Homo sapiens: one gene and its partners. The protein of the gene in region 5 purifies or fractionates together with the protein of the main gene of each other region. This does not show direct contact. Each region holds a gene or a part of one and is shown on either strand. Other genes may lie near its edges.

What was found.
Region 1: the proteins of CAPN10 (region 5) and CCT6B purify together in Homo sapiens (affinity purification with mass spectrometry; one large-scale study listed by BioGRID and IntAct). This does not show direct contact.
Region 2: the proteins of CAPN10 (region 5) and MAP1B purify together in Homo sapiens (affinity purification with mass spectrometry; one large-scale study listed by BioGRID and IntAct). This does not show direct contact.
Region 3: the proteins of CAPN10 (region 5) and MAP1A purify together in Homo sapiens (affinity purification with mass spectrometry; one large-scale study listed by BioGRID and IntAct). This does not show direct contact.
Region 4: the proteins of CAPN10 (region 5) and STK3 purify together in Homo sapiens (affinity purification with mass spectrometry; one large-scale study listed by BioGRID and IntAct). This does not show direct contact.
Region 6: the proteins of CAPN10 (region 5) and AHCYL2 purify together in Homo sapiens (affinity purification with mass spectrometry; one large-scale study listed by BioGRID and IntAct). This does not show direct contact.
Region 7: the proteins of CAPN10 (region 5) and MAP1S purify together in Homo sapiens (affinity purification with mass spectrometry; one large-scale study listed by BioGRID and IntAct). This does not show direct contact.

Annotation. Positions count from the first base shown.
Region 1 is NC_000017.11:34,930,461-34,933,960, forward strand, and holds part of CCT6B (T-complex protein 1 subunit zeta-2), read right to left. Parts: intron 2,041-3,500; coding exon 1,907-2,040; intron 592-1,906; coding exon 489-591; intron 1-488. UniProt on the Homo sapiens protein: Component of the chaperonin-containing T-complex (TRiC), a molecular chaperone complex that assists the folding of proteins upon ATP hydrolysis.
Region 2 is NC_000005.10:72,113,975-72,117,474, forward strand, and holds part of MAP1B (microtubule-associated protein 1B), read left to right. Parts: intron 1-1,723; coding exon 1,724-1,825; intron 1,826-3,500. UniProt on the Homo sapiens protein: Facilitates tyrosination of alpha-tubulin in neuronal microtubules. Phosphorylated MAP1B is required for proper microtubule dynamics and plays a role in the cytoskeletal changes that accompany neuronal differentiation and neurite extension.
Region 3 is NC_000015.10:43,520,608-43,524,107, reverse strand, and holds part of MAP1A (microtubule-associated protein 1A), read right to left. Parts: intron 3,468-3,500; coding exon of another isoform or gene 3,385-3,467; intron 3,137-3,384; coding exon of another isoform or gene 2,996-3,136; intron 2,785-2,995; coding exon of another isoform or gene 2,635-2,784; coding exon 1-2,634. UniProt on the Homo sapiens protein: Structural protein involved in the filamentous cross-bridging between microtubules and other skeletal elements.
Region 4 is NC_000008.11:98,815,689-98,819,188, reverse strand, and holds part of STK3 (serine/threonine-protein kinase 3), read left to right. Parts: intron 1-3,500. UniProt on the Homo sapiens protein: Stress-activated, pro-apoptotic kinase which, following caspase-cleavage, enters the nucleus and induces chromatin condensation followed by internucleosomal DNA fragmentation.
Region 5 is NC_000002.12:240,593,234-240,596,733, reverse strand, and holds part of CAPN10 (calpain-10), read right to left. Parts: intron 2,829-3,500; coding exon 2,687-2,828; intron 2,192-2,686; coding exon 2,025-2,191; intron 1,711-2,024; coding exon 1,430-1,710; intron 416-1,429; coding exon 213-415; intron 54-212; coding exon 1-53.
Region 6 is NC_000007.14:129,406,530-129,410,029, reverse strand, and holds part of AHCYL2 (adenosylhomocysteinase 3), read right to left. Parts: intron 555-3,500; coding exon 484-554; intron 173-483; exon of another isoform or gene 1-172. UniProt on the Homo sapiens protein: May regulate the electrogenic sodium/bicarbonate cotransporter SLC4A4 activity and Mg(2+)-sensitivity. On the contrary of its homolog AHCYL1, does not regulate ITPR1 sensitivity to inositol 1,4,5-trisphosphate.
Region 7 is NC_000019.10:17,729,480-17,732,246, reverse strand, and holds part of MAP1S (microtubule-associated protein 1S), read right to left. Parts: intron 1-2,767. UniProt on the Homo sapiens protein: Microtubule-associated protein that mediates aggregation of mitochondria resulting in cell death and genomic destruction (MAGD). Plays a role in anchoring the microtubule organizing center to the centrosomes. Binds to DNA. Plays a role in apoptosis.

The DNA of each region.
Region 1 (3,500 bases), on a different chromosome or scaffold from region 5:
CACTTAACCCCAGTTGCCTACATGGCTAATTTCCTCACTTCCTTCCACTTTTTTTCAACAGACATCTAGATGATGCCTACCCTGACCAACCCTTTAAGCTGTCATTCTCTCTCCACCCTCCTGTACTAGCATTCATGATCATTATTATAGCACTCTTTTTTCCATATAATTCATTACTTTTTCTAAAATGCTGAAGGAGTTTATTTATTAAAGTTATTATTTACTGCCTACCTTCTCCCACTACAACATAAGCTCCCAGGGGCAGATATTTTTGTCTGTTTTGTTCTGTGTGAAGCCCAAGAGGAAAACAAGCACTCAATAACTATTTCTTAAATGAATGAACATTTTTTAAGAAGCTCAAAAATAAACTAAAGGCATCCAAAATTTAAATATTAAAGTTACCCAAACCTCTACTCCTTTACCATAAGATCTGGGTAACTAAAGAATAACCTCTTTATTAAGCAGCTAATTTTCCTTCACTTTCTTACCTGTATTCAAATCTACGCCCACAAGTTGTTTTGACTCGACATGCTCAGCCTGAACTTTTACTAATGTTTCCTGTGGGTCATAACCAGCATTCTGAGCAAGAACCTTTAGGAATAAAAATAATAATATATATTATATATATATGCATAATACCTTCACATATATCAAATATAAAAATACTCTTTACTCTTGTAAAAACACATCCATAACATGGCAATCATCTCCTTTTGAAGAATTCCACTTTTAATCTAAATCAAATTATTATTTCATCTATCTAGTAGTTTTTATATTTACTTAAACATTTCCCCTATGCACGTCACACTAAATTCTGAGGACATCAGAGTTCCCCCATTTTTACCCTACTACATTAATTTCCCTCCTTGCAAAAGGTTTGTTTTGTTTTGTTTTGTTTTTAGTATGGAAGGAAGTAGAATGATATTCTTGTTTCCTCTAGTGCCGCTAGCCACATGCCCTCCAGTTCTTCATAGGCACTTGCTAAGGAAACCAGAATATTTGCAGCACCTTTGTGCCCCTCATCTTCATGAGGAGAGTCACGACCTGTGGTAACAGGGTTGGAGATACCTGCACTCCAAACCAGGCTCACTTCCAAGTGGCCCCAAATCACCAGCTGATGAGGAAAAAGGTACCACCAATGTAATGTGTACTGGGGTTACCAATTTCTGTCAGCAGCAGGATCATACTGACTTTGCTGCTCTGGGGAAAGAAAAAATAGCAAATCTAATTCACAAAGATTTCACAAATTATGAAAAATTTTAATAAAAATTAGCAAAGAGATTTTGCTAACATTGTTAATAATGTTTTAATTCATGGTAATAGCATCTTTGAAGTAGTTTTACTATATTTCTAAGGTGGTTTGAAACCAATTAAGGCAAAGACAAAGGAATGGTCGCTTTCTGTCCTTAGGTTGCCACATGGAAAAATTCTGTTTTCTCTTTTTCTAGGAATTATAATGATGATGACAAATGTAAGGTTGTATCTAGGAGTGCTAAAGAGCCTCAAGCCCTCCCTCTCCACAATTTAAATTGATTACATTTGGATACCACTAACAAAACAAAGATGTACCACAAAATCTAACTAAATTTTAAATTCTAAACTTTTTCATTATGATTAGTTAATCATGAGTCATTTCTGAAGGAAATTTTTGGAGCTGCTTTAATTTTTGGAACTCAGAGAAAGAAGCAAGGGGGTAAGTTGGCTATTTCATGAGATCGTGCAAGGATCCTGGGCTGTTATCGCAAAAGTTTCCCTGCTTTAGTTGTAAAATATCTAAGAGAAAACTGTGTAAGGAAATGCACATAAATACCTGTCTACTCCATTAACTATCAGATAATATGGGCAATTTGTAATTAAACACCTTTATGTCTAAGCAGTTGTTATTTGGCCGAAAGGGTAGTTGTACCTTGGGAATAATGAGTAAGGCATCAGCAAAAGCTTGGACTCCAAGACGAGCTCTTCCTTTTATACTGTTCTTATATGTAACAAGAGCTTCAGCCATTGCCACTTCAATTGCACCAGCTCCAGGAACCATACAACCTATTGGAGAGAAAAAATATGATTGGCAAGACATGCCATAAAGACCAAAAGAGAGAGAGAGACAGAAAAGCAATTCACTATTTAAGTATGTTCTATTATCTACAGAAACCAAATAAATTGCACAGCTTAGTAATTACTCAGTTATCTTATGAAACATCCTGAAGTTATATGTCATTAAATAAATAGGCATAGTACAGATAACTGGCTGCAAACAGCTTATTTTGCTCCTTACCCTCTGGTAAACAAGAATAATTTATTTTTACCTTCATCTTACTCTTTTATAACTACTTTTTTTTTCTGAGATGGAGTTTTACTCCATCACCCAGGCTGTACTGTAGTGGCATGATCTTGACTCACTCCAACCTCTGCCTTCCAGGTTCAAGTGATCCTCCTACCTCAGCCTTCTAAGTAGCTGGAATTACAGGCGTGCACCACCACACCCAGCTAATTTTTGTATTTTTAATAGAGATGGGGTTTCACCACGTTGGCCAGGCTGGTCTTGAACTCCTGACTTCAAGTGATCCACCCACCTCCGTCTCCCAAAATGCTGGGATTACAGGTGTGAGCCACCACACCCGGCCTTATGACTACTTTTAAGAGGTATTTATAATTTATATTGACAGGTAACTGATTACAATATCTGACATGAAAATTCTTTAGACCAAGATCATTTGTCTAGTTTTTGATAGGGAATTCTTGGAACTCAATGAAGTATTTGTTTTTTGTACTGCAGCAGAACTCAAACTGCTATCTAAGAAAAAATTTAAGTGGTATTATTCTAAAGCAAGAGTTTTGGTTAAACACATCAAATTTCACATCAGGATATCACTTTTATATCTGCTACTTGTATGGTTTCATAAAGTTTATGACTCTTATTTAAATCAGAAAACTTGCTTTAAAACAAAACAATACGAAAACAATCTCCCCTTTTATCTCACATCATTTTAAAATTACTACCCCCTTTCACTGCTTCACTTCACAACATAACCGCTCAAAGAGTTGTTTACCCACCAGATGATTACATCATTACCTCCCATTCACATTTTTTAAAAGTTCCTTGTTAAATACAGAATATACTCAAAAGAATATTTATATGTATGATATAAAGAATAAATGCACAAATAAACAAATGTATCCATGTACCTACCACCCAGCTTAAGAAAGAGATTACTAGAACCTTTGAAAACTTCCCTGATCCCATTCTCTGTGAAAACACAACATATCAAAATTTTAGCATCCCTAAAGCAGTACTTAAAGAGAAATTTATATCACGAAACACCTATATTAGGAACGAAGAAAGTTCTCAAACTAATGACCCCAGCTTCCACCTTAAGAAACTAGAAAAGGACAGGGTCTGGTGGCTCGCTCCTATAATCCCAGCACTTTGGGAGGCCAAGGCAGGTAGATCACTTGAGCCCGGAAATTCAAGACCAGCCTGGGCAACACAGTGAGACCCCATC
Region 2 (3,500 bases), on a different chromosome or scaffold from region 5:
AAATGCAAACTGAGGCTATTAATGTTTCCAGGAAGAGCCATAAAATTCTCCCTTATAATTTGACCTTTCCTTAAGCACGTTAACTCTTCCACATCTGAATTCTTCCCATTGATCATATGAGAAATTTCTGCCTGTATTTAGTGGACACACATCTATTTGAAAATATTCCTCCTGGTTGAAAAGGTCTGTGGTGTGTAATCTAAAGATATTTTAGATGTGCAGTGAACTGAGTTTCCAGAATCTTTTTTTTTTGTAATGTCTATGTATAATCCACCTTGATTCTTTACAGGATAGGAAGACTGAATACAATATAACCAAGGGTAAATACAAATATGCCTTAAGGATCCAGTGTGTATTTAAGTAACACACTGCTATTTATTCCTTCAAGTCTGTATACATGACTAATGTCCAACAAAAATGATTACATGACTGGGTGTTAATTTAGAGATAGTTCACCTGCTGTGTTATACCTAGAGGTTCAAGCCCTTACCTTTAGGAGGTATGCAATAAATGTCTGTTGTTCTAGAGATTTGTTCCTGGCAATTGAGAATGCTGTATACAAAGGTACAATGATGGATACCACACACTGGCTCCACCATGAGCAACCTATTAGGAAAAATGTAATATATAATATGTAAACATGTAAAACACACACACACACCAGAGTTCTGGGGTTCCCCAACTTTCCCTGGCTTACTCTCCAGACCTCCCTTCTATGATGCTCTCTGGGGTTCCCTCTGGGCCATCCCCTTTGGGAGGGCAGGAGAAAGAGGACAGTGGGAGGAGGAAGGAAGAGGCTAGAGAGTAGGGCATGAGCACAGGAAGCTGCCCTCATCCCGCCTCTTGCCCTCCTGTTCCTCTCACCCTGGATATTCCTTTCAGCCTAGGGAAAGGAAGTCTGATAGGACTTCCTTTCCGTTCAGCCTAGGGTAGGAATAGCTGATTCATGTCCCCAACTCCATAAATGTTTTATAAAGTATAAAAAGTTGCCATTTTTCTTTGCCTCTGGATAAGAAAATTGAATACAATGAACAATTGTGAATAAAAGAGCTGCCTGCCAAGCTACTCAGGTAACAGAAAAGTGCCTGGAAGGACAGACAGGCCAAGTCTTGAAGATTGAGTGGATCCACTCTGTTTATCAAAGATCACATAAATCTTGGATTGATATCCAGGGCTCGATAAACCAAAGTCAAAAACGGGATTGGTAAAGGAAAGAAATTACACATGTATACTACCAGAACATCATTTTAGAAACAAAGGCCCGTGCTTGAATGGCAGCCCCCGTGTATTTTCTTTGCCTTTATTCTACATTTTCTTGCCACCTACAAGTGGAGTTAGTCTGTCTACAAGCTAGAGTTAGTCTGTTGGCCTCTTAGCTTCTTAAGAACTAACATCTTCCTGCCCTTTCTAGTCCCTCCCTGGAGTACAGCCTGTCATTTTCCTAACAACTGTTTTCTTTGACTCTTCCAGAAGAGGTGCATTTACTTTTTATGAGGGGCAGAAGCTCAGTCCACACTGCTAATTATCCCTCCCTTGTGGCCTGGTGGAGAGACCTCCCTGGCCCTCCCATTTTGTGGGCATCCACTGCTAAGCCACCAAGCTCTTCAGAAAAGGAGTTCCCACATCCTCCCTGAAAGCCTGAGAAATATTACAGTGATGTTGTCCAAACCACTCTGAAATGACTAACTGGAAGTCTCTCAACTGTCTTTCTTTCCCTCCCTAGGAATCCGATCATGGGACACAAACCTGATTGAATGCAACTTGGACCAAGAACTCAAACTTTTTGTATCTCGACACTCTGCAAGATTCTCTCCTGAAGTCCCAGGTGAGGCTTCCGCTCAGTGTTGGTCAGCCTAGAATTCCAAAGGACAAGGAGCAAGCTAGAAAGCTTTGTCTGAGGCAGCAAAAAGACTCTCTTATTGCTAAAAGGATACTTTGTATTTGTTATTATCAACTAGGTTAGCCAGCAGCCACAGTTTAGGAAGTCACTCTAGGTTATCACTGTGTGGGTTATCTATTTTGTGGATTCTTAATGAGTTTTTAAGTTCTAGGGTTGTGTATGTGTATATATATACACACACACACATCAATGATCACACAAATTTTGAATTGATATCCAGGGCTTGAGAAAGAGAGAGAGAGAAAGAGAGAGAGATAGTATAGTGTGTGTATGTGTATCTCACTGTACTCTGAGCTCAAGGGACTACAAACTATTTAAATGTTAATCTTACTCAAATGAAATTCTGAATACAAATTGGATGCTCCTAGGATCCCAGAACTGTCTTCCTGCAAAAGAAAAAGGAAACATATACTGCATTTCAAAATGAAATATACATCATCATTTCATAATTGCATTATCACCCGCCATTGCATTACCACTTATCTTTCTTCGTGTGGGTAAAAGAATCTGATATTACAAACTTCTGTTAAAATAGCCTTTTTTTCAGAGATGAAAAAGAATATCAAAGAATAATTAAAGGTAAGGATGCAAAAATTTGTCATATGTGAAGATGTTCCCACTAACCAGCCACCTTCCTGGGGCTATGATCTGACCCATGCCTCTGGCGCTGGAGATGTATTCATACTGACCCATCTCGTCTTCTTCTTGTGAGCAATAACCTATATTCCTCCCATTTGGTCACATTTAGGAATTATGAGACAGTTTCTGGCCCATAAAGACTCCAAACCTGGAATATATTTCTCCAGACCTTTGCCATTGACCCATCAGAAACACTGTATTACATCTTATTTCTTGACCATCACTTGAATTTTACATAAGAGAAAGCTATTTTCTGCCCATATGCTTTTGTTATATGATTCCTAATTTTATTGGCATTGATATAACATCAGGAATGAGATTCAGCCTATTTTGACTGGTTAGGTCATATTCCATTAGTCGTGTATATACATTGATATTTGAAATCACTTTTATAGAATATCAGTGCCTTCGTGAATCACATTTGGCTGCAGTAATATGCCCATAGGACTGTCTCAGTTCTTCCTTTTGAGTTTAATATTAGAATAAAATCCCATACATTTCAGTTATTGAAATGCATTGTAGCTTTCAAGTATGGAATTGAGTAAATGTGCTAAGAAAAGCTTAGCAAGAAATGGTTTATTAAAAGTTAACTTCCTGCAAAGCCACATGAAAAATCAGTTTTTAAGTAACTTTGCTTTGAGAAAAAAGGAATCCAGAGACTGTCAGACAGCATATGATTTGCTGAAGGAAAGGTACAGTATAAGGTTGTTTCTCTTGTTGTTATTTTATTGTATTTTTGTCTTGCGATATCTCCGTATCTTTTAAAACCATCTCACAAAAAAAATGAGGGAAGTGCTGTTTTCCAAAAAGTATGATTATTTCAAAATGTAAAAACTACAAGCTTTTATTTTTTCTCTGTAGGTTGTTCTGGCTTTTTTACTATGATTGTTTGTAAGACTTCTTTTTTTGTGTGTACAAGTCATGTGGTTCTCATTGTGTTCATTCATATTTGGACTGACTT
Region 3 (3,500 bases), on a different chromosome or scaffold from region 5:
GGAGGAAGGGATGCTTGTGACTGTGTCAAGCAGCAGGGAGCTCTTGCCTGTCTCCTCTGTCTGGGGAGCTGTAAGTGAGGCCACAGATTGGTCCTCAGCCACTGATGTGGCAAAGGAAGAAAGTTTGTCACACTCAGTGATTGAAGTGGCCGAGGACACATGTTCCTCTTCAGCCAAAGGGGCAGCCACTATGTTAGTGGGGTAGGTGAGTTCAGTCTCTGGCGTTCCATAGACTTTGCCAGAGGTAGCAGGAACAGCACTATCGGCAGGTTGGCTGGCTTCGAATGGGCCAGCACCTTCAGGCCCGGGCAGGTCATATGTACTTGTATGAAATCTGGGTGGAGCTGGGCGCTCCTCCGGCTCATCATGGATCTCCTCATCTGAGATGGTCTGCTCAGTCTCTGAGTAGCCAGGGATTGTCTCATCCTGGATGTAAGAGACATGCTCAGTGGCTCCTGCAGGTGTGGTCAGGCTGCTTAGGAATAACGAGGTCTCCTTCTCAGGGGCCTTGCCCTGGAGTCCCAATTCCCGACCCCCAAAAGCCTCCCGGCTCCTTGGAGTTACCTTCAAGGGTTCCTGCATATGTTTTTGGTAAAAACCCTCAGCTTTTGTCGCGTCCTCTTCCTCCTCATCTGAAGGGTGTACCTCCTCCATTTCTTCTAACTCAGCCTTTTCTATCACATCCTCCTTTACTTCAGGTTCACTTTCCTCTCTGGCTTCTGTTCTGTCTGGGAGCCTCTCTGCTTCCCTCTGCTTCTTTTCCTCCCAGGTATCTTTCTCTTCCTCTGTTTCAGCCCCAGAGTCTAGGCCTCTGTCCTTGCTGCCTTGTTCCTCAGGGACCTCTGGGACAAGCTCTTTCTCCTTCATCACATGTTCTTCTTGTCCCAGCCCTGGAACAGAGGGTGGTGTTCCCTGGATAGCTGTACTTGGGGGTCCCTCCTCTGCAGTGTCTAGAGGGAATGGCTTATCTCCTAGTCCTGTGTCCCTTTGTTCAGCCAGCAAAGCCCTCTCCTCACGCTTCATCTCCTCAAAGTCCTGTGTGAGGTCCTCTGGTGAGGATAGGACCAGCTCCCTGTGCCCACTGATGGTTGGGAGTGGTACAGTTCCCTTCTGGGCTGGGGGTGTCTGGGGCTCAGAAGACAGCTCCTTCTCCCCACGGATAGCACGGCTCCTGTCTATTTTGACTCTTCCAGGGACCTTGGCTTTATAGAGGGTCTTACGTACCTCAGGAGTAAAGGGCTTTAGGTCTGGCTTGGAAATCTTCTTGAGCTCAGGTTTGGTATCTTTCCTCTTCTCCTCCTTCTTGGCATCCTTCTTCTCCTCCTTCCTTCCTTCATCCTTCTTGAGCTCTTTCCTCTCCTTTTTGATCTCTTTTTTCTCCTTGTCTTTTTTTTCTTCCAGCTTTGATATCTTTTCTTTAAGGTGCTTTTTCCCTACCTTGTCTTTGATCAGCTTTCGCTTCTCTGCCTTCAGTGCCTCACTTGACTCTGTCTTCACCCTCTCAGGCTTGGCAGGCTTCTCTGGGGGCTTCTCAGATGACTCTTTTGCCTTCTTCTCTGTCTTGGCTAACTCCTTGGCCAGCTCTGAACGTGCCTCCTTGGCTCCCTCTTCTACCACCTCCTCCCGTTTGGCCAACTTGCTCACGGCCGTCTTGGTAGTGGCTTTGAGGCTCTCCTTGCTATCAGCCCGCTGTTTGATTTTGCTGGGCTTGAGGTTGGTAGGCACAGCCCCAGAAGCCAGGTCCTTCTGCGTGGCCACAGGGTAACGCAGGAAGTCCAGATGCCGAAGCTTTTCTAGGCCCTCCAAGATCTTGTTTTGGGGAGCATTTCCTGGAAAAAGCACACGCACAATCTTCTCAGTGGGATTGGCTGGTAGCCAGACCACCAGAGCAGTGATAGAGGTAAGGTAGGGCACGGAGATCTCAGCCTCCTTCCCATTGGGCAGCACGATGCCTGTCTTGGCTTTACTATTGCCTGCCCACTTTTGCATGAGGAACTGCATCTCCTTGCTGTCCTTGACAGGGTTGAGGACATACATGTCCAGCCGGCCCACACCCATTTTGTGGAAGAGGGTCAGTGGCTCAATGGTATTGCTGACCACACGATATAGAGGCTCAGCCTGGATGCCCAGGCGGTTTAAGTGCTGCAGAGTGAGGCAGGCCTCCTCAATGCTACGCTTGGCTTTCCGGGAGGCATCAGGAAGCCGCAGCTTCTCAGGCACGTTGAAAAAGACAACTCCAAGCTCAGGAGAGATAAGGTTCTTCACCCAGTCGCTGTAACTGCTAGAGCCCTGGGACTGCTCCTCCTCTAGCTCTGCCACTTTGCGCTGCAGTAGTCCATTGATGCCTGGCAGGTTGTCTGCCCCAATGTGTGTGAGTAGCACCGAGTCAATGCGGTCCAAGTGCCGTACCAGCTTCCAAAAACAGGACTTGCGATCAGAGCCACCATCCACCAGGATGTTGAAACCATTGACAGCAAAGAGGGCAGAGTCCCCACGACCACCTGGGAAGATGTAGCAACAAGGCTTGGAGAGCTTGAGGAAGCCCCCTGAGGTGGGGGGCTCTAGTAGGTCAAATGGGGATGGCACGTCCACAGTCTCAGAGACATACTCGGAGAACTCAGCCACGCCGTCCATGGTGGGCAGAGTGGGCTCAGGGTTTAGCCGGAGGTGCAGGGTCTCTTGGGAACTGGATAATCCCAGGTGGCTCCAATCACCTTCCCCTAAGCAGGACACGGTAAGGAAGGCCTGTATCCCAGGGTCTCTATTGCTGAGCAATTGGGAAATCTAGAAGAATAGGAGATAGAAACCTGATCAGGTCACTAGAGTTGTTTTGGTCTGACTTAGATTCAGTACCCTAATCTTCACCTCTTTCCAAGGTGGACTCTTACCTTTCTGCCAGGGCCCCCCATGGTCATGCAATATGAGACTTTCCCTTAGATCCCTCCCACAGCTCTAGTGCTACCCTTTCTCCCAGACACTCTGGCATGGAACTTACCTCGGGGTTGTGAAGGACCTGGGCAAAGTTTTCATATGAGTAGGTGCCACTCTGTAGGATGAGGTCTCCCCCAGGCTCTAAACTTTGCCCACTCAAGATTAGTAGTTTATAAGCTGATGAGCTGCTAAGAAGATGATGAACCTGGAATGGAAGAAGGGGAGTGGTCACAGATATAGGAAATCCAGGGAAAGGCAATGAATGGCCCCTCAGTACCTCAAGAACATGCTCCCAACTTATGTCCCTCATAACACCTCCAGAGTGGGCTGGAGACAATACGTCAGCTTAGATGGCAGAGAGAGGAATTCTTGGCCTAATAGTGGTAGCACTGGCAAGGGTGGGTATAGCACTTGCACCAGGCCTGTTTGGCAAGGCACAGGCCCTGGCCTTACCTCAGAGCTGATGCTGTCTGCACTGGGATTTACCAGGATGATGGTCTCTAGGATCTCACTCTGGTGGCAAAGGGTCCTCTGGCCTGAGGGAGAGATGTAGGAATTTATATTGAGAA
Region 4 (3,500 bases), on a different chromosome or scaffold from region 5:
CATGATTGTGTGGATGCATTCCATCCTGGGCAACAGAGCAAGACCCTGTCTCAAAAACGTTCATTGGGCTGGGCACGGTGGCTCACGCCTGTAATCCCAGCACTTTGGGAGGCTGAGGTGGGCAGATCATGAGGTCAGGAGATCGAGACCATCCTGGCTAACATGGTGAAACCCTGTCTCTACTAAACAAAATACAAAAAATTAGCCGGGCATGGTGGCGGGCATCTGTAGTCCCAGCTACTTGGGAGGCTGAGGCAGGAGAATCGTGTGAACTTGGGAGGCGGAGCTTGCAGTGAGCCGAGATTGCGCCACCGAACTCCAGCCTGGGCGACAGAGACTCCGTCTCAAAAAAACAACAAAAAAAATTCATTGTTTGCATACATACCGTGAATATCGACATGAAGATTACCTTGAATTTCTGAAAGTACATCATAGGAGTATATCTTGAAAAATGACTCATAGCAAAATGAGAATTACAAAGTGTTAACATTAATGATAATTAGTTTAGGTAGTATTATTTTGAGTTCTGAATTAGTTTATAGATTTATATAATACCAGACATCTTAGTATAGAGGTGAATTGAGTAAATTTTTCAGATGTTTCTGCTATCTTGATACACACACACACACACACACACACACACACACACATTTATAATTTATAATTGGCAGCTAATTTTCTTGACTCTGTTTATGGAACCAAGCCACATAGTCTCCTGTTCTCTGTTGTGTTGCTCTGTTCTTTCTGAAAACTGGCTTTCTTTACTTACTGATCACTACTCATGGCAAAATTGGCATTCGGCCTTTACTTCATTCATTTCCTCATTTATTCATACATTCAGTAATTATTAATTGTTTTCCACATTCCAGATGCTCATTGGTGAATGAAACAGGTGGGTTCTTTGCCCTCATATAACATACACTCTTGTTGTAGCTTGAGCTATGAAAGATATAAGTAGTGTGTAGAGAAAGATGGTGAAACCTGCTTAATAGGGCAGTTGGCAGAGGCTTCTCTGAGAAGGTGATATTTAAGTTGTAACCTGACATTGAGAAGTTATCCATGTGAGTAGCAAGGGAAAAGTATTCCAGGCAGGGGGGAAAGCTATGAGAAGGCCTGGAGGTGGGAAAGAGCTTAATGTGTGGGAGGAATTGAAATGACACCAGTGTGCCTGGATTGGAGAAGAGGACAGTGGCTAGAGATGAGCTCAGAGAGATGGGCACGGATTCAATGATGCCGGCCATGGAAAGGAATTTGGATTTAAGTCAGAGCTCTGTGTGCTGTCATTAAAGGTTTTTAAGCAGTTTATGTTTTTAAAACATCCTTTTGGCTGCTTTGGGTAGAGTAGATTGTAGAGGGTTAAGAATAAAAGAGAAACAAGTTAGGAAACTATTTGAATAGTTTGTGATTTGAGATGGTAGAGTCAGTGGAGATAGAAGTTGAGAGATTTGCGATATTTTGGAGTTATAAATGAAGGACTTGCTGATAGACTAGATGTGGGGAATGAGGGGAAAAAAAGAATCAATCCTGGCTCCTATGTTTTGAATTGAAACAACTTGGGGAATGAGGAAAGACCGGGAGAACAGGTTTGGATATCTATAGTCTCTTTCTTGGAATTTCATAATCCCAAGAAAGTGAATCTGATTGGCCTAAAATGTGATATTAAGTGGTTCCTTTAGAAGAGGAAGTGGGTAGGGAGGAAATGATGCACACTGATTTCTATTTTTTTTTTTTTTTTGAGATGGAGTCTTGCTCTGTCGCCCAGGCTGGAATGCAATGGTGCAATCTTGGCTCACTGCAACCTCCGCCTTATAGGTTCAAGCAATTCTCCTGCCTCAGCCTCCCAAGCCGCTGGGACTACGGGCGTGTGCCACCACACCCAGCTAATTTTTGTATTTTTAGTAGAGATGGGGTTTCACCATATTGGCCTGTCTGGTCTCGAACTACTGACCTCAGGTGATCCACCCACCTCGGCTTCCCAAAGTGCTGGGATTAAAGGCATGAGCCGCCATGCCCGGCCTGATTTCTATTTTTATCCTATTGTTTTCACTCAGTTAGAGTAGAGAATGGAAAACATATCTAGCCGTTTTTAGGTGTTGACATGTTCAGGTGTGCTGGTAACCTGCTATTTTAAAAAAAATCTTTTTATTGCAAAATAAAACATTAGTACAGAACACATGTATGGCTTGGTGAATTATTATAAGGCAGATACCTTTGTAATCACCCCTCAGGTTGAGAAATAGATCACAGTGGCCTTTCCCTATAAGTAATCATTTTCCTGACTTGTGTAGTAATAACCCAAATGTGCATTGCTAGATACTGTAGGTTAGTCTTGATGATTAAGAAATAGTAAGTTTTGGCCAGACACGGTGGCTCACACCTGTAATCCCAGCACTGTGGGAGGCCGAGGTGGGTAGATCACCTGAGGTCAGGAGATCAAGACCAGCCTGACCAACATGGCAAAACCCCATCTCTACTAAAAATACAAAAATTAGCTAGGCATGGTGGCAGGCACCTGTAATCCCAGCTACTCGGGAGGCTGAGGCAGGAGAATCCCTTGAACCCAGGAGGTGGAGGTTGCAGTGAGCTGAGATTGCACCATTGCACTCTAGCCTGGGCAACAAGAGGGAAACACTGTCTCTAGGTTGTGTTTTGTTTGTTTGTTTGTTTGTTTGTTTTTTGAGACAGGATCTTGCCCTGTCACTGAGGCTGGAGTGCAGTAGTGCAATCTCAGCTCACTACAGCCTGACCCTCCTGGGCTCAAGGGATCCTCCTGCCTCAGCCTTCTGAGGAGCTGGGACTATAGGCATTGGCCACCATGCCCAGGTAATTTGTGTATTTGTAGACATGGGGTCTTGCCATGTTGCTTAGGCTGGTCTTGAACTCCTGGGCTCAAGTGGTCTTGCCTTGGCCTCCCCAAGTGTTGGGATTATAGGCATGAGCTACAGCACCCAGCCCAAAAAGCAGTTTTGATATGAGTTGTCACTTTTAATCTTTAGTTTAGTCCTCCATCCTTTTCCTTTTCCTGTTGGAGAACCCAGGTTGTTTGTACTAGTTTCCCAGAGTTGGATTTTGCTGATTGCTTAATATAGGTCAGTTCAACATGTTCCTTTGTCTTCTGTATTTTCTGCAAACGTGCAGCTGGATCCAGAGATGGAGCAGACTCAAGTTCGATCCCTTAGGCATTGTGATATATATATATATATAGATGGGGTTTGGCAAGACCATGGGAATATCATAATGTCTAATTGTCTTTCTTTTTTGTGATGTTAGCGGCTGTGGATGGTTAGTGGGTGTTGCAATATAATGAAATTCTAAATACATCATTTTGCTTTCATTTATTAATTGGAATGTTTTTATAAAAAGTAACTTCCCCTCATCTTCTGTTTAGTTACCCAGTGGTACTGTTGATAAAGGAAAGACAGGATAAATGTTTGATTCTTTCCTTTTATTTACAAGTTTTCAAGATAACGAATTAGTTCCCTGTCTTTCTCCAAAGGTGG
Region 5 (3,500 bases):
CCGCAGGCAGGGCTGCCCCGGGGGTGGTGTTCTTGGCCACTGCCCTGATGGCGCTGCCAAGAAGACAAACATGGGAGGGCGCTGGCAGCAGGTTCCCGGTGGCCTCAGTTCCCACATGGACACCTGCCAACCACAGAGGGAAAGTGCCCAAATCCTGCCTTGGAAGGGCCTGTGGCCTCGGAGAGCCAGCAGCACTGCGCGGTTCCTCTCACCTAAGGGAGACTCGCCCGGTAGAGAAGACTCGGAGCAGGAACTCCCCTGGCGCGTCCTTCAGGAAGGTGCTGGGGACAGCCAGGTAGTAGCCCGGTGAGAGCTCACAACGCAGGTGGACCTCCCGGTCGTATGCATGGCACGCGGTGCCAGCCACGGGGGGCATGGACAGGACCCTAGGCAGATTGACCCGCCGCTTCTCTACCTGTGAGCACGTGCAGGAGGCTCAGTGTGGAGGAGCGGCCGGGGTCAGACGCCCTGGCCTTGACCTCCCTGCTGCAAGCACAAGGGCCTCTGGAGTTGACAGATGAAAGCGCCAAGGCCTGTCAGCACCCTCCACCCTCTCTCAGGGACCAGCTAGAGATGCCCACCAATCCCGGGCTTCACTTGGCCCTGGCGCCAGTATCTGTCCCAGACACGAGCCTGCAAGTCCTCCTTGTAGCTGGGCCCACAAAGGCACCGTGGCCCAGGCAACCTGGGGGCTGCTGGACAGTGGGCCTTCCAGCAACTTCTTTTGCAAGAGGAAAGGAACATCATGTGGGCCACATCCATGAAGGGACAGGGAACAGTGTGGTGCCAAGTGTCACACCCTGTCAAGACACACAAGATGAAAACCCAGCCCCTGAGCGAGCAGCCGGCATATCCTCGACCCACACTCAGGCCCTTTGCCCTCAGGCGCCCCCATCTGTTCTTCCTGGAAACAACACACTTTGTGAACCAGTGGTTGAGCCTGGGACTGCCTGGGCCTCAGAGCAATCCCATGAGATCCGTGTCAGGACCCCGTCTTGCAGGGGAAGAGACTGAGGGAGGCAGGGAGAGGATGTGTGCCAGGTCACACAGCAAGCTGCAGAGCTGGGACTGGCCCTGACAGGTCCTCAGCCGCTGGCTCTACCTCCTTGCCTCAGAAAGGCACGGCGCTGCCAGGAGCCCCCCGGGTCCAGGCCCCTCCTGCGGGTCCTGCCCTGGCTGCAGACTCTGTTGCTTTCCTTTGGCCAATGAGGCACACGGCAAGGCAGAAAGACCTGCAGTCTCAGGTCAGAGCCGGGTCTGGGAGCACCAGCAGACGTCAACCCCGTGCAACAGCCCAAGGAGGGGGGAGACTGGTGGGGCCCGTGGCAGAGTCACATGTGTCCCGGCAGAGCCAGTCCTAGAACCCAGACCTCCATGGGCCTCCACACCACCTGCTGAACCGAGCGTGAGCCAGACGGGGCTGAGTTACCTTCCAGAGGTGCAGACCCACAGCCTGGTAGTGCTTGCCCGGGATGCTCGCTGGGCTCCACGAAGTATGACTGTCACCCACCAGTGCCCGGGCCCGGCCTGCCCAGTCCGCCGCGTGCAGCCTGGATCTCTGCAGGACGGCAATGTACACCTCACTCGGTTCTGAGACCCGCAGCCAGAATTTGGGGTTGCTGGGAAAGCCGCTGTTGTTCCGGCAGCCTCCTGCTGACTGGCCCTTGACCCAGGCCCCAGGCAGCGCCCGCGTATGGCAGAGCAGCCTCTCTAGTGAGAAAACACCAGGCATCAGCTGTGGGACACGGCTCCTCGCTGGCCTCCCGCCATGGTGGCCTCATGAACCCTGGCAGGGTCTAAGCAGCAGCTACGGCCACAGACAGAGCCAGCCCCTCCCACAAGCCCACCCTCCTCCCAGCTCCTGGGACAGAATCATCACCCTCCTCCCGGCTCCTGGGACAGAATCATCTCTCCACGCTGAAGAGAACCAAACTGGGCCTGGGCAGGGGGAACCCAGGCACCTGCCCAGCCTCCTCACTTCGGCAGGCAGAGCACGTGCCCAGCACAGCCCCTCGGGGCACTACCTGTGTAGAGGCTCTGCAGGTGGCCGGCCTCCGTGACCGGGTAGCCAACGGTGAGCTCGTCAAACTCCCTGAGGAACTCCTCCTCCTCCACCCAGAACTCCCCTTCCTGGAGCTGGGACAGGAGCTCAGATGCTACCGCTGCATCTACCTGGCTCCACCCTTCACCCCTGGAAGAAACCTCATCTCAGCAGAAGCCCCTCCCGAGAACTGGTAGTGTCAACTTGCCGGCAGGCTGGGGGGAAGCCTGGAGGGGACCCAGAGAGCCCTGAGTTCCTGCCAGCAACCCCGTGCCCCAGCTCTGCAGCCCCTCCCACACCCGAAGCAGCTCTGCAGCACAGGGCCTTCTGGGCAGCGGCCACCCTGGAGCCCTCTCTTTTCCCAGAGGAACTTCACGCCTCTGGATGCGTCTTCCCAGGACTGCTGCCCGAGCCCGTGATGATGTCTGCCCTATTGAAACCCCAGGCCCAATGGCCACCTTGGTCCCAGGCCTCACAAGGATTGCCTGGAGCCAAGACAAGCATGGTGTCACGAGAGCAGGGACTCAGGGGCCTTGCTGGAGACAGCCAAGTACAGTCCTGACAGCTGAAGGTGACCAGGACACAGGCCAGACTGGCACTGGGCCCCCCTCCCGACAGCAGCATGGTCCAGGCCCCAGCACTCACCCCTCTCTCCAGAGCCCCTGCCAGCACCGCCGGCCCCAGGGGTTCTGGATCCGCAGCAGCAGGATGCACTGGCCCGCCTGACCCTGGAGCTCCCGCAGGTCCGAGACAATGAAGGCATGGAACTCCCCCAGCTCCCGGGCACCTGCATGAGGAATGGCGCAGGCACAGGCAGGAAGGGCACCATGGAGTCCCAAACTGACAAGGACACACAGGCCTCTGCCTCCTCCTCTGGAGATGCTCCAGCCCACCCCACTATGGCTACACGGGAGACCCCAGATCCCCATGGACCACGAGAGCTCCTTTCTTAGCAGCTGTGACCCATCAGCTCAGGAGCATCTCCAGGAGCAAGCACACGGGGCCTGACTCGGCTGCCATCCGGGTCTGGTGCTGGGTAAGTCATCCCCTTCTCTAGGCCTCAGTCATCGTCCGTACCCATCTGTGCACGATGCCTGGCACAGCACCAGTTCTCAAACATGCTGCACAGATGCATCTGCAACTGCCAGAAATCTAGAGAGTGTTTCTCTTGGCAAAGCCTGCTAGAGGTAGGACATTCAGATAGTGCCCTGGCTAGAAGCCCACTGGAGGCATGGAGGCCCAGGGGGGCAACAGCTCCACCTGGCCAGAGACCTTGAGACAGATGGGCATAGAAAAGAAAGAGCCAAACAGAGAGGAAGGCCACATCTGTGGCGGGGCAACGGTCTAGAGAGGAGGGTCTCCTGGAAGGACTTCAGTCTCGCCCACGCCGCGGCCCCTTGCCACCTCAGCAGGCTCCAATGCACCTCCAGTCAGTGCCAGCTGCCATCTCTCTCTGCCT
Region 6 (3,500 bases), on a different chromosome or scaffold from region 5:
TTGCAGTCAAGCAGAATGTACCTCCTGCAGAGACAAATCTTCTGCATGAGATTACTGATGCTTCACTTGCACTCTAAGCTGGAATCCAAACTCTGGTTTGTCTCTTGAAAATTTGACTCTATAAAACTGATCTGATTTTCTGTTTTTAAAAATAAATATATTTTTGGAAAAAAAAAATATCTGGCTTCCCAAATAAAACTTTATAAGTGAATCTCATCTCTAGCTATCTCCTAGGATGAATGGAGATATAACAGTTGTCTTCAAGGGTGAAGAGAAACATTTTTACATAGGAATAACCTAATCGTATACCTTTGGTCGGAGCTCTAAAGAATTAGGAAGAATGTGAAAGACTGGCTGGCTTTGTGGGCTACTATCTCTCTCTAGCTTTTAGAGTTTGGTTTTTCAGAATATTTCCAATCATCTTGCACCTGCTCCATAAAAACATTCCCAAGTGCCACCCCATTTAAAATGTCATTATCATACCTGTACAGGTAATAACAATGTCCACTTGTCGGATGACCTCATTTAATTTCACCAGTCGAAATCCATCCATACTGTTGAAATAAAGCATGACCCATTAACCTAAACAGGCAGCTGGGGAGCCTTTTAACACAGGACTTCAAAAGCTAATATCAAGTTGCTGTCATTTCTTGAGATAGCTGAACTATTCTTAGAAGTGAAAAATCCAAACAATTTCCTTAGTTCATACAAGACAGAAATAAAAGGTTCGTTTGCATCACGGAACTTATTTCTTCCTGATAATAGGGAGCCAGGGGCTACCATGAGATTCCCTGACCAAATTTCTAGAAACTGTAGAAAGTGCCACTTAGCCATTTAACCAACTACCCCATTGAAACTGCTCTCTCCAAGATCATCAGTGATCCCCCGAAGGCCAAACCCAAGATTTCTTAGACTCTTAACTGTGTGTGTTTTTTTTTTTTTAGAGATGGGATCTCACTATGCTGCCCAGGCTGGAGTGCAGTAGCTAGTCACAGGCATAATCATAGTGCACTACAGCCTCTAACTCTTGGCCTCAAGCAATCCTCCTGCCTCAGCCTCCTGAGTAGCCAGGACTATTGGCATACACCACCATGCCCAACTTCTTAGACTCTTATATTATTTGATTTCTTCTACTACATTAAACATTATTTGCCTTCTTAAAACTCTATACCCCTTGGACTCCATGATACATCTCTCCTGGTTTTCCTCTTACTTCTCTTAATTGCCTCTCCTCAACTTCAGCCAACCTTTGGATATTGGTGCTCTGCAGGGTTATGCCTTTATTCTTTTCTCTATTCTTTCAGTATAGAGAACCATACTCTTCCTTTGGCTGCAAATGACTGCTGATAGATGGCTGATTTTTACATTTGTAACTTTAGCTTAGATCTCTCTGAAGCTTCATAGCCAAGGATCAAATTAGCCACTGGATAGCACCTCATCAATGTCCCAGAAGGATCTCAAACTTACTGTGTTTGAAAATAAACTTATTATTTTCTCTGCACCCATAATCTCATCTATTTCTTCTTCTATATTTTCTATCTTGATCAATAGCATCACTGTTCATCCAACTGAATGAGCCATATAAACAAGAATGTCCTTGCTGCCTCTCCTGAATTGAAGTTGTCACCAAATCTGGGTGACTCTTTTTCTTTAATTCCATAAACGTCTCTTTCATCTCTCTACTCTTCTCTAATACATACTGGCCTTGCTTAAGTTTAGGTCTTATTACTTCTTGCCTAGATTACTATAGTAACCCCTGGCCCAATCTCATTGCCTCTAGGTTTACATCTTTCTAAATCATTTGGCAGAGTGATTTTCCTAAATGCAATTTGGATCATGTCGCTTCCTTTCCTTAAAATACTTCAGTGAGACTGCCTGTTCTTAAGGATAAGACAGGATAAGAGTAAGACCCAAATACTTACAGTGATATGTGATTATATTGACATATGACTCCCATGACTCCTACCTTAGATAGTACCACTCCCCCAAATGTATTTCATCTGCCAACTACATTAAAATATTTCTAGCTTCTTAAATCTGCCATGCTATCTCCTTCCTTGGAGACAACACACATGTTCCCAGTACCTGGAATATACTTCCAAACTAAGAAAACACCTATACAAATGTCAAGACTCAGCTCTGCTGACATCTCTTTCTACCCTGCTCCCTTGCTCTTCAGTAAGCAATTTCTCCTTTATGCTCCTACAGAAGCATGTGCCGTTTAACTCCATGACAGCACTTACTTTGCTGCACAGTGGTTATCTGTCTGTGTGCTTCTAAAAGCAGGACCTTATCTCATTTATATATTCATCTTATTCATTCTCAGCACATAGCACAGTATCTAATGCATAGTAAGTGATCAATTCGTGTCTACAGGATAATCTGAACAGGATAATCTGAACTGTTCAGTATCTGAACAGTATCAATTTGTATTAAAATATGTTCAGGTTCCTAAACTCTTAGTGTACCAGAAGGATGATGGTTCCCCTAGGCTACAGACACTTGGACTCTGCAATAGTTTTTAAGAACAGTGGTATTTCCCACCCTGCTGAGGATGGCAAGAGACAATTTTAATAACAGCTATTATTTAATGAGCATATATTATGTGGCAGCAGCTCTGTACCTTATATAATTATGTATTTGTTATATAATGTATAATATAGAATAATAATTATTTTGAGACATGGTCTTGCTGGGTCACCCAGGCTGGAGCGTAGTGGCATAATCACAACTCACTGCAGCCTCCACCTCCCAGGCTTAGGTGATACTCATACTTCAGCCTCCCAAGTAGCTGGGACCACAGGCATGCACCACCACACCCAGCTAATTTAAAAAAATTATTTGTAGAGATGGGGTCTCCCTATGTTGCCAAGGCTGGTCTCGAACTCCTGGGCGCAAGCAATCCTCCTGCCTCAGCCTCCCAAAGTGCTGGGATTACAGGCATGAACCCATTACACCCAGCCTATGCTAATTATTATTTTACTGAACTCTCACAATCCTATGAGGTAGGTATGATTACACACATTTTATAGATAAGAAAAGTTTTAACTTTTAATTTTAGAATCATTTCAAACTTAAGAATTATAATACTAGTGTAAATAATTCTCATATATGCTTCACTCAGAGTTAGTAGATTTTACCCTTAACTGGGATTGGTCTAATGTTTCCTCACAATTAGATTCAGGTTATACATTTTTGGGAGGAATACCACAGAAGGGCTATTTTCAGTGTAACACATCAGAAGGCATCTGATGCCTGCCAATTTCTTTTCTGATCATTATTTGAAAGGCAAGTATCATACATGGAGAAGGTAAGGGGCTACCTGTTCTCTGGCTGACAGAATCCCTGTTACTATCTCCACAGGATTTCTAAATTTTCGCTTTTCTGATAGTCTCTGCTCTCTCCAAGCAGAGCTCCTTGACCTTTTTAAAAGACAGATGCTTAGAGTTAGTGGCAGCATCTCTGAGGATCTGGGCTCCTCTAAAATAAAGTGTGGCATC
Region 7 (2,767 bases), on a different chromosome or scaffold from region 5:
AAAAATAGAAAATCAGCACATACCTGTAGCTAGCAAGGAGAATGAATCAGTAACTTACGACCTCCCAACAAAGAAAAGCCCTGGGGAAGCCACTAAACATTTAGAGAACTAACATCAGCCTTTCTCAAACTTTTCCGAGGAACTGAAGAGGAAGGAACACTTCCTAACTCATTTTATAAGACCAGAATTGTCTTAATACCAAAGCCAGGCACAGATATTTAATTCTACAAGAAAATGCCAGTTCAACAGACTTTATGAACAATAATGTAAAAAATCAGGCCTGGGGGTGCAGTGGCTCACGCCTGTAATCCCAGCACTTTGGGAGGCTGAGGCAGGCAGATCACTTGAGGTCAGGAGTTCAAGACCAGCCTAGCCAACATGGCGAAACCCTGTCTCTTACTAAAAATACAAAAATTAGCTGGGCGTGGTGGCAGGTGCCTGTAATCCCAGCTACTCGGGAGGCAGAGGCAGGAGAACTGCTTGAACCCAGGAAGTGGAGGTTGCAGTGAGCTGAGATTGTGCCACTGCACTCCAGCCTGGGCGACAGAGTGAGACTCCATCTCAAAAAATAATAATAAACGAATTCAGCAAAGAAGCAAGGTACAAAGTCCACAGGCAAAACACAGTTGAATTTCTATACATGAACAATGAACAATGTGAAAAGGAGATTAAACAATCATGAAATAGAAGAATCAAGATAGAGGACTCACACTTCCAGATTTCAAAACTTACTACAAAGCTACAGTAATCAAAACAGCGTGGCACTGGCATAAAGACAGACATATAGACCAATGGAATACAATAGAGGCCCGGAAATAAATCATCACATGTATGCTGAAATGATCTTCAACAAGCGTTCCAAACATTCAATGGGGAAAGGATAGTCTTTTCAACAAATGGTGCTGGGAAAGCTGGGCTTCCACATGCAAGAGAATGACACTGGATCTTTTCACCACATACAAAAATTACCTCCAAATGGACCTAAATGTGAAATGGAAAACTTAAAACTCCTGGAAGAAAACATGGGGTAGAAGCTTCTCACTGTTGGATTTGACCAGGCATGGTGACTCACATCTATAATCTTAGTACTCTGGGAGGCCGAGGCGGGCAGATCACTTGAGGTCAGGAGTTTGAAACCAGCCTGGCCAACGTGGTGAAACCCCGTGTCTACTAAAAACACAAAAAAAATTAGCCAGGTGTGGTGGTGGGTGCCTGTAATCGCAGCTACTCAGGAAGGCTGAGGCAGGAGAATCGCTTGAACCCGGGAGGCGGAGGTTGCAGTGAGCCAAGATAGTGCTCCCATGCTGCAGCCTGGGCAACAGAGCCAGACTCATCTGAAAAAAAAAAAAAAGAAAAAGAAAAAAGAAAAAAAATCGATGTGGCAATCATTTATTGGGTCTGACATCAAAAGTGCAGACAACAAAAGAAAAAAATAGACAAAATGGACTTCATGAGAATTTAAAACTTTTGTGCATCAAAGGGCACTATCAAAAGAATAAAAAGGCAGCTCACAGAATGGGAGGAAATATTTGCAAGCCATTTATCTGCTAAAGGATTAATGTCCAGAATGATTTAAAAAACTCCTAAAACTCAGCAACGGAAAACAACTCAATTTAAAAATGGGCAAAGGGGGCTAGGTATGGTGGCTCATGCCTGTAATCCCAACAGTTTGGGAGGCCAAGGCGAGAGAATCGCTTGAGGCTGGGAGTTCAAGATCAGCCTGGGCAACATAGTGAGACTCCATCTCTACAAAACATTAAACAATTGGCCAGGCACGATGGCATGCACCTGTGTAGTCCCAGCTACTTGGGAGGCTGAGCTGGGAGGATCACTTGAGCCCAGGAAGTTGAGGCTATAATGAGCTGTGTTTGCACTACACTCCAGCATGGGTAACAGACCGAGACCCTGTCTCTAAAAAGTAAAACAAAATTTTAAAATGAGCAAAGGAATTGAATAGACATTTCTCCAAAGAAGACAGACAAATGGCCAATAGGCATATGAAAAGATGCAACATCACTAATCATTAGGGACATGGAAATCAAAACCACAATGAGATCCCACCTCACACCCATTAGACTGGCTAGCGTCAAGCAGCTGCTGTGGAAAACAGTCTGGCGGTTCATCCAAAATTAAACGTTGAGTCGGGCGTGGTGGCTTATGCCTATAATCCCAGCACTTTGGGAGGCCGAGGCCAAAGGATCACTTGAGTTCAGGAGTTCAAGACCAGCCAGGGCAACATAGTGAGACCCCAGTGCTACTGAAAAATTTTAAAATTAGCTGGGCGTAGGCTGGGCACAGTGGCTCACGTCTGTAATCCCAGTACTTTGGGAGGCCGAGGCGGGCAGATCACGAGGCCAGGAGTTCGAGACCGGCCTGACCAGCATGGTGAAACCCCATCTCTACTAAAAATACAAAAATTAGCTGGGCATGGTTGCGCATGCCTGTAATCTCAGCTACTTGGGAGGCTGAGGTAGGAGAATCGCTTGACCCCGGGAGGTAGAGGTTGCAGTGAGCTCAGATCGCACCACTGCACTCCAGCCTGGTGACAGAGCAAGACTCCATCTCAAAAAAAAATTAGCTGGCCGTTATGGTGCGTGTCTGTGGTCCCACCTGTTCGGGAGGTTGAGGTGGGAGGGTTGCTTGAACCCAGGAGGTCGAGGCTGCAGTGAGCCATGTTTGCGCCACTGCACTCCAGCCTGGATGACAGAGTGAGACTCTGTCTCAGAAAAAAAACAAAGAACAGCACAGCAGGCCAGAGACCCTCCTC